Regions from separate parts of the Homo sapiens genome. Here region 1 is linked to region 2. Evidence: fine-mapped expression QTL. Tissue or cell type: sun-exposed skin. Region 2 holds a variant in brackets; the other region holds the start of a gene. All regions are shown on one strand. Distances are between the middles of the regions.

What was found. PIP is the estimated chance that this variant, and not a neighbour inherited with it, causes the effect.
Region 1: it holds the start of CPVL, and the variant in region 2 is fine-mapped to the expression of CPVL in sun-exposed skin (GTEx, PIP 0.96).

Annotation. Positions count from the first base shown.
Region 1 is chr7:29,144,429-29,148,596 of GRCh38, reverse strand. CPVL (carboxypeptidase vitellogenic like) reads left to right here and starts at 2,060. Exons shown (of 13, transcript NM_031311.5): 1 at 2,060-2,168. It also overlaps a transcript of CHN2 not described here.
Region 2 is chr7:28,943,659-28,948,010 of GRCh38, reverse strand. No RefSeq gene overlaps it. Among named protein-coding and RNA genes, the nearest start is that of TRIL, 12 kb to the left of the region's middle. The variant C/T (reference allele first, on the strand shown) is at 1,899.

The DNA of each region.
Region 1 (4,168 bases), 200 kb before region 2:
ATTTGAACGTTTACTTCTTTTGACTCTGTTTTAATTATTTTAATAAATGTAATTTTCTCTTCTGGTTAATGTATGCCATATTTCACTCAGGGGAACTGAAACAAAAATTAAAGTTAAAACGTGTTATTCAACATTCACAGAGATAAATAGTGTTAAATTAACTTTCAAATGGTGTTCTTATAAGTTGCAGCATTTATAGCCTTGAGGTTACTAAAACTGCAGGAAGACTTTTGGGACACCCTGTTTTTGAATAAATATGCTTACAGCATGGCTCCTCCTGTGTTTACTGTAAAATTCAGTTTAGTTTTTAAGTGGTTCCACGTGGGCACAGGTATTCTTTGGCCAGTAGTTGTCCTTATACTTAGACCCAAGGAGCCCTTGTCCAGGGCCCACACTTTAGAAGGCAAATTCCAAATTCCCTCCCCAAATGGCACTGAGCCTGCTTCAAGGGTCTGCACGCCAGCAGCAGTGTTATCTGCTAATGTCTGTACTCCCATGGGCGAACATTGCTGACTCTGGTGTTCATACTCTTGTGCCCAAGAGGTGGCTGGGGGACAGCTGCTTCTGGGAAGCTTGACCGAGCTTCCACCAATGGACTAGAGCCCTGTGGGAAGAGAGGAGGTGGCTGCAAACCAGGAACTGGAAATCGCCTCTCCCTGCACCATCATATTTAAGTGCAGATCATCCAAAGTTTCAATCTGGCCTTTCATGTCAATTCCCAAGGTATATTTGTCTAGGTAGGAAGGTAGAACTTATTGTACTTAATCATTTGTTAACTTTGTTTATAACTTTTAAATATTTAGGTATCTGGCCTACAGATCTCTGTTTGTACTTTTGCCCTGGGTCCTGCATATATTAAAGGTGGGCTGATTTTGGCCTTAAAAGAATTATTTTCCCACAAACAGATTTTTCTCCTTAAAGAGCTAGGTGGGTAGGAAGTACTTCCATATGGAAGGTATGATAGCAAAGAATGACTGCAGTCACTGAGCACATACTTTGTGCTGGGTGATTTACACATAGTTTTTCAGTGAGTCCTCACAACAACCCAATAAAGTAGGTACTTAGGAGAAAACAGATATTCAGTGACATTAGTTTGTTCCAGCTCGTAAAACTAGTGCTTTAGTTAGCCTTAGTTGCATAACAAACTACGCGAAACTGAAAGTGGCTTAAAACAATTTTTCCCCCTGACTGTCGGGTTGGCTGGGCTGCTCTACTGCGGGTTTCCCTGGGCTCACTCCTGCAGCTAGCTGTGAGGAGATGGAGGTTGGCCCGGGACAGTGCAGAAGATTCCCCGTGGCCTCTCCCACCTGTCTGGCAGTTGACGCTGCTGTTGCTGATAATGATGACCCTCCTTTATTTTGTGTTATCTACTTGCCATTGCAACCTCCTTGCCTTTTTTAGTTCTTGCTCCCGTACTGTCTGGCTCGATGCCCAGCACCTGGTGGTGGCTAATAATATACACTCAGGTCACTTACAAGCAATGTGACCCTGGATGGGTTACTTAACCTCACTTAGTTTGTGTCCCCCAATTGCAAAATGGGTATAATGGTACAGAACACATCAGGTGGCTCTGAGACTCCAGCGCAGTGATTCAGGAGAGTGCTTGGCAGGACAGTGGCACTTGGTGCGAGCTTACTGCTAGTGCAGCTGGAATGTAGACCATCAGCGAACGTGTGTTGCCTTTTTAAACAGTGGGAATCAAACACCACTCGCTTTCCAAATGTAAATCCTGGGCTTGCAAGTAAGTCCTAGAGTGCAGAAATAATTTCAAAATACAGGGTTGAAATTTTAAGATAGCAGCTTTTAAAAACTGGGAGACAAAATCAAAATAAAACAAAGGGACAAACCAACCTGAATGGCACCCCGCCGATGCTCTTCATTAATTTTTAAGATTCCACCCTGGGGCTGCTTGCTTCTTCCAGCATGGGAAGCGCTGACTTGATGCGGCCAGGTTTCTGGGACCAGGAGGTTGGGACACGACGACGCACTTTTTGCCCTGTGGGTCTGGGTCATGTGAGCCTAGAGGAGCGCTTAAAGGCTCGAGTTCTGCAGGGTCCTCGTGACTGGGTGGGGCTGCCTCACTTCTGCCTGATTTGGGAAGCGCTGCAAGGACAACCGGCTGGGGTCCTTGCGCGCCGCGGCTCAGGGAGGAGCACCGACTGCGCCGCGTAAGTGCCGCCTGCCCTGCGTGGGTCGTGCCAGCTCAGCGGGACAGGTCCTCGCCTCGGTCCCTCGGACTTAGGGAGCGCGGGGCAGGTAGTCTCAAAAGCCCTCAGCACCAACAGGGGAGAAAGCACCGTAGAGTGAGACTGGAGTGGGGTGGTCGTGGCCGAGTCAAAGTTCAAATTGGAGCATTGGGGATGTACTGCGTGCGCCCAGCCGAGGGAATACTCTTGAAGTTTCCTGGCACAACTGTCGCACCCGGGGTTCTTCCAGGCTAGAAGCCGTCTCCTACTCCAGGAGCTCCTCCGGGGAAGTACGAAGCTGTGGGGTCCTCTGCCGCTCTTAGCGCGGGAGGGTGGCGGGTGCAGGACACTTTCCCTTACTCCCTCAACGCGTGTTTTGGGGATGTGTTGATTTCGTGGGTGCTCAGAAGCAAGAGAAGCGGAAAATACCTTCTATTTTGAACGTGCCCAAAGCAGGGAAACTTGGCTTCTGCCTAGGAACGCATAGGAAGACTTTTATTCTTGGAATGTAGGATTAGCAGAAACCAAGGGCACAGGAGACAGGTGGAAGCAGCTCCCTGTGAAGTGATACAGAAACAAAAGGACTTTGGAATATTTGTGGATTTAAATCCCAGTTCTGGCCTTGGCTAGTGAGTGACCTCGGGCAAATTATTTAAGCCTACTAAACCTCAGTCTTTCCATCTGAAAGATGGAGATAATAAGTTTTTCTTTTTAAAGAATTGTTTTATTGGAAATAGAAATAACATACAGAAAATGCCTCCCTAGCACGGGACTTGGCTTTTCAGCTAAGTGTAATTTTCCTTATCAGTTATGATTGATGATGAAGTCTATGGTGAAGACAGAACAAAATAATGTTTAAAACTCTGGCCATATAATGACTGTGGCTATGCATGACCCGTGTGCAGTCACCTCTGAGCCCCCCACCTTCACTGCAACCCCAGTGGGTCCCAAGCAAGGTGCTTGGGTTTTGGAGCTGGACAATTCTGTGCAATTCCTGGTTCCGGTATCCACTACTTGGATGACATCAGGGACGTAACTTATCTTCCACAGCCTCAGTTTTGGCATCAGTAAATGAAAAAGGAGCCCCTCAGTACTTGCCTTTCCCTTCCCCGGCTAAATGTACAACTCATTTTTTTTCCATTCTTTGCTTTGGGATGAGTAAGAACAAAGATGTAAGCAGAGTAAAAAGTCCATTGAGAATACATTTTATTAGCTTGGTAAATAACGTTTAAGAAAGTTGTCCAAAAGGAGAATTGGAGCACTTTTGGAAAAGTACACTGCACCGGCTTTGTTGGCATATGAAAGTCTGCATGGTCGTCAAGACCGTTTGGCTAACTGGGCATTCTAGATGTGTACCTCATGCTAGTCTAAGTACAGGGGCAACCCTTTATAATGTAGTGTCAGTGTTCTTAACCAGATGTTGTTTTATTAATCTTTTATAGGAGATGATTGTTTGGGAGGGGCAATTGATCCCCCAATTTATATAAATCCAGTTTATAAATCACTTTATAGTGGGATTCTACTAGCCTGAGAAATAGGTGGGTTTTGACTGACAGTTTGAATGACTTAGAAGAGTGTTAAGAAAGTCCACTGGGTTTACCAGTTCACTCCCCACAAAAAATAAAAACAAGAAGCAAATAATATAACAGAATTCTAAAAATGAGTTTGTTTTTGTTTTGGGAAGCATCTAGTTTGTCAGAGGAAACACTGAGTGTTGAATACTACCCTGGGATGCACAGAACTAAGGCAATGAGAGGGGAGGAACTCAGTTCTTGCCCCAGGTATCATCAGATATCTGTTTATTAGCACCCAAATACTCAAGGTAAATAGTAATGACCCATTCTTTCTTTTTTTGAGACAAGAGTCTCACTTTGTCACCCAAGCTGGAGTGGCACCATCTCTGCTCACTGCAACCTCCATCTCCCGGGTTCAAGGGATTCTTGTGCCTCAGCCTCCTGAGTAGCTGGAATTACAGGTGTACA
Region 2 (4,352 bases):
GTTAATATTTGTCCTGTTTGCTTTCTCATTCTCTCTGTCAACTACTTAAGAATAAACTACAGACATTATAGGTTTTTTTTTTTTACCACTAAATATTTCAGTTGTATTTCTGAAGAATAGGACATTGTCTTACATAACCACAGTACAATTATCAAGATCAGAAAATTTAACCCTGATAAAATGCCATTATCTAATCCACAATCCATATTCAAATCTATCAACTGTCCTAATAACATTCTTTTTAGCTGTTGCCTCCTGGTGCAATCTAGGATCATGCATTAGCTATCATGTAGCCTCTCTTTCCATTTTCTTTGCTTTGATTTTCTTCTTTCCTAAAGTAAGCTATATTGAGGTGTAGTTTACATACAGTAAAATTTACCCCTTTTGAATGTATAGTTCCATCAGTTTTCACAAATGCATACAATCATTTAGCCAGCACCATAATCAAGATATAGACCATTTCCTTTACCACAAACAGTTCATTTGTGCTCCTTTTAGTCAATGCCCTTTCCCATAAATTCAATCCCTGGTGATCTCAGATTTAATTTCTCTCCCTATGGTTTTTCCTTTTCTAGAGTGGCATATACATGGAATCATACAGTATGTAACATTTTGTGTCTGGCTTTTTGAGTAGTATTCCATTGCCTGAACATACCCCACATTGTTTATTCATTCACTGGTTCAAATTGGTTTTAAAAATAGATCCATACCTTATGGTGTGAGATATGGATCAAGCAAGCAAGCAAGATTAATGTTTTTTTGTTTTGGTTTTATTTTTTCCATATGAATATATAGTCATCCAGTACATTTTGTTATATATAAAAGATAACAACCAATTTTTCAGCATTGAATGACCTCTGCAACTTTGTTGAAAACAATCAGTTGGCCCTATATGTGTGTCTATTTCTTGAAACTCTATTCTGGTCCACTGATTCGTATGTCTATTCTTGGTCCAGTACCAAATTGTCTTGATTACATAGGCAGTCTTGAAATCAGGTAGCATAAGTTCTCCAAATTTATTCTTCTTTATCAAAGTTGATTTTGGCCAATTAGCTTTTTGATTCTCCATATAAATTTTATAATTGGCTTGTTATTGCCTGAAGAAAAATGTCTGGTGGGATTGTGATCTTGATAGTATCTTAGTCCATTCAGGCTGCTGTAACAAACTACCATCAACTGAGTGGCTTGCAAACAACAGAATTTTATTTCTCACAGTTCTAGGGGCTGGAGAGTCCAAGACCAAGGCTTGGGCAGATTCAATGTCTGGTAAGGGCCTGCTTCCTAGCAGACAGCTGTCGTCTTGTTCTAACCTCACATGGTGGACAAACCAAAGGAGCTCTCTGGGGCCTCTTTTTATAAGGGTACTAACCCCATTCATGAGGGCTCTCTCTTCATCACCTAATCACCTCCCAAAGGCCCCACCTCCTAAAATACCATCACCTTAGGGGTTAGGATTTCAAGGTATAAATTTGGGGAGGGAGGAGACACAAACATTTAGACTGAGGTAGATTGCATGAAATCTATAAATGAATTGGGAAAGAATTGACATCTTAACTGACTCTTGATCTGTGAATGCAGTGTGTTTTTTAATTTATTTAGTTCTTTGTAATTTATCTGATAAATGTCTTAAAGTGTTCAGCCAACAAATCTTAAATCAAATATTGTTAGCTCTATAAGTATTTCATGATTTTGATGTTATATAATAACATCGAAAGTATACATGGCACTTTTAGAAAATTTCAGTTTCCAATTGAACATTTTCTAGTCTATAGAAATAAGTTGGATTTTATACATTGACCATTAAACTTAGTTCTTGTAGTTTTTTGGCACATTCTTTTGAATATTTCATGCATATAATCACATTGTCTGTGATAAAGATAATTTTATTTTTTCATTCC[C/T]GTTGGTATGCCCTTTATAAATTTTTCTTGCCTTATTGCACTGGTTAAAAACAGCAACAACTCGGGAGGCTGGGGCAGGAGAATCACTTGAACCCGGGAGGCAGAGGCTGCAGTGAGCCAAGATCACCCCACTGCACTTCAGCCTGGACAACAGAGCAAGACTCCATCTCAAAAAAACAAACAAAAAACCAAAAAAACAGCAACACACTGTTTAATAGCAGTAGTAAGAGAAGGCTTCCTTGCCTCACTGCTAATCTTAGGAGTAAAGCATTCAATCTTTCACATTAAGTATGATATCAGCTCAGTGTTTTCATGATGCCTTTCATCAGATCGAGGAAGTTATAATTTGCTGAGAAGGGATGTTAAATGTTGCCAGTTGCTTTTTCTGCACTATTGAAATGATAGTATGACTTTTCCTCTTTAATCTGTTGATATGGTGAAAATTACATTGATTGATTTTTGAGTTTTGAACCAACCTTGCAACTAAGTGGGACAAATCCCACCTAGTTATGATATATTATCATTTTTATATATTACTGGTTTCAAATTCTTCACATTTTATTAAGGATTTTTGTATTTATGTTCATAATGGATTTGTCTCCAGTTTTCCGTTTTTTTGTAATGTCTGTTTTTGGTTTTGGTTTCAGAATAATGCTGGCCTCATAAAGTAAGTTGAGAACTGTTTCTTCCAATTCTATTTTCTGGAAGAGCTTCTATAGAACTGGTATTATTTCTTTTCTAAATGTTGATAGGTTTGCCAGTGAAGGCTTATTTGCTTGAAGTTTTCTTTGTAGAAAGGTTTTTTTCCCCATGAATTAAATTTATTTAATGGATTTAGGATTCTTCAGATTATCTAATATTCTTGGATGAACTTTAGTAATATGTGGCTTTCAAAGAATTTGTTCATCTCATCTAAGCTATCAAATTTATTGGCATAAAGCTTATTGGAATATTTTCTTCTTATTATTTTTAATATTAGTAGAATCTATAGTAATGTTCCCCACTTCCATTCCTGATACTGGAAATTTGTATCTTCTCTCTTATGAGCCTTGGTAAAGAGTTATCAATTTTATTATGTCACATACAGATTTGTTTGTCAAATAACATGTCCATAACCTTTAAAAACTGTTTCTTTTTTAGCCGCATTTATTGTGTATAGTAAAAAAGAATTTTTTTTTTATTTGACAGGCTATGTTTTTTGAGACTTTGTACACATGGACAGGTATTCTTAAATTTGTGTAATCTTTAGGCTAATATATACAAATTAGCACCCAGAAATATGTTTTCTTTATACTTAGCTCTTCTCTTTCCTCAACATTATGTAAAACATGGGGGGAAACCCTTTCCAAATAAAATTAATATGAGACTCCTTTTATAATGAACAGCTCTATAAATCAGATTACATTTAGGTCACATCTAAGAAAGTTCCAGTGAAGGAGAGTAAATAATTGTGTCTGCTTAACAGCCCTGTGGTTGAGGCTTTTGGTGTCAACTTCAGAACATTATCAATCCTGGTATCATGATTTCCCACTTAGACATCTTTCTGAGTATTGCATTTGCTTGGAAAGGAACCCTGTGCTCTTTTTGGCAGCATATATACTAAAATTGGAATGATACAGAGAAGATTAGAAAGGAATCCTGTCTTGCAAAAAAAGCAATAACTGTCTATTGTGCACATTAAATTTTAAACAAGTGCTCAATCTGAAACCAAAATTGGTTGGAGAAGAGGAGCACAATGGATTAGAGATATGGTAGAACTCTTATTTTGTGGAATAATTCATAGATGCTCCTCTCCTGGTAAGGACTGTGGCAAACTTACTACTATACAATCACCACCAGGTCTCAAAATTGTAGATAGACAAATAAATAGCTCATTGTTTAAAAGAAAATAAAAATGCTTAATTTTAATATTGCCTACATTAAAGATATTACTGACTTACAATATGGCAAATCTTATAGAAGGGAGAAGCTGTATTTGAGATTTTTATCTTGGTTTTATACATGTATTAAGAAACCTGTAATCCTAGCACTTTGGGAGGCTGACATGGGAGTATCGCTTGAGGCCAGGAGTTCGAGACTAGCCTGGGCAATATAGGGAGATCTCGTCTCTACAAAAAATTAAAAAGAAATGATTAGCCGAGCATGGTGGCACATGCCTGTAGTCCCAGCTACTCAGGAGGCTGAGGCGGGAGGATTGCTTGTGCCTGGGAGGTTAGAGGTTGCAGTGCAGAGAGCTGTGATCACACCACTGCACTCCAGCCTGGGCAACAGAGCCAGACCATCTCTGTCTCTCTCTCTCTCTCTTTCTCTCTCTCTCTCTCTATATATATATATACACACACACACATACATATATATACATGCATATGTACACATGTATTATTTAATTTATGTAAGACTCATTAAGCATAAACTACTTTGAGGCATAGGGTATTTTGTTTATTTAATTTAGCA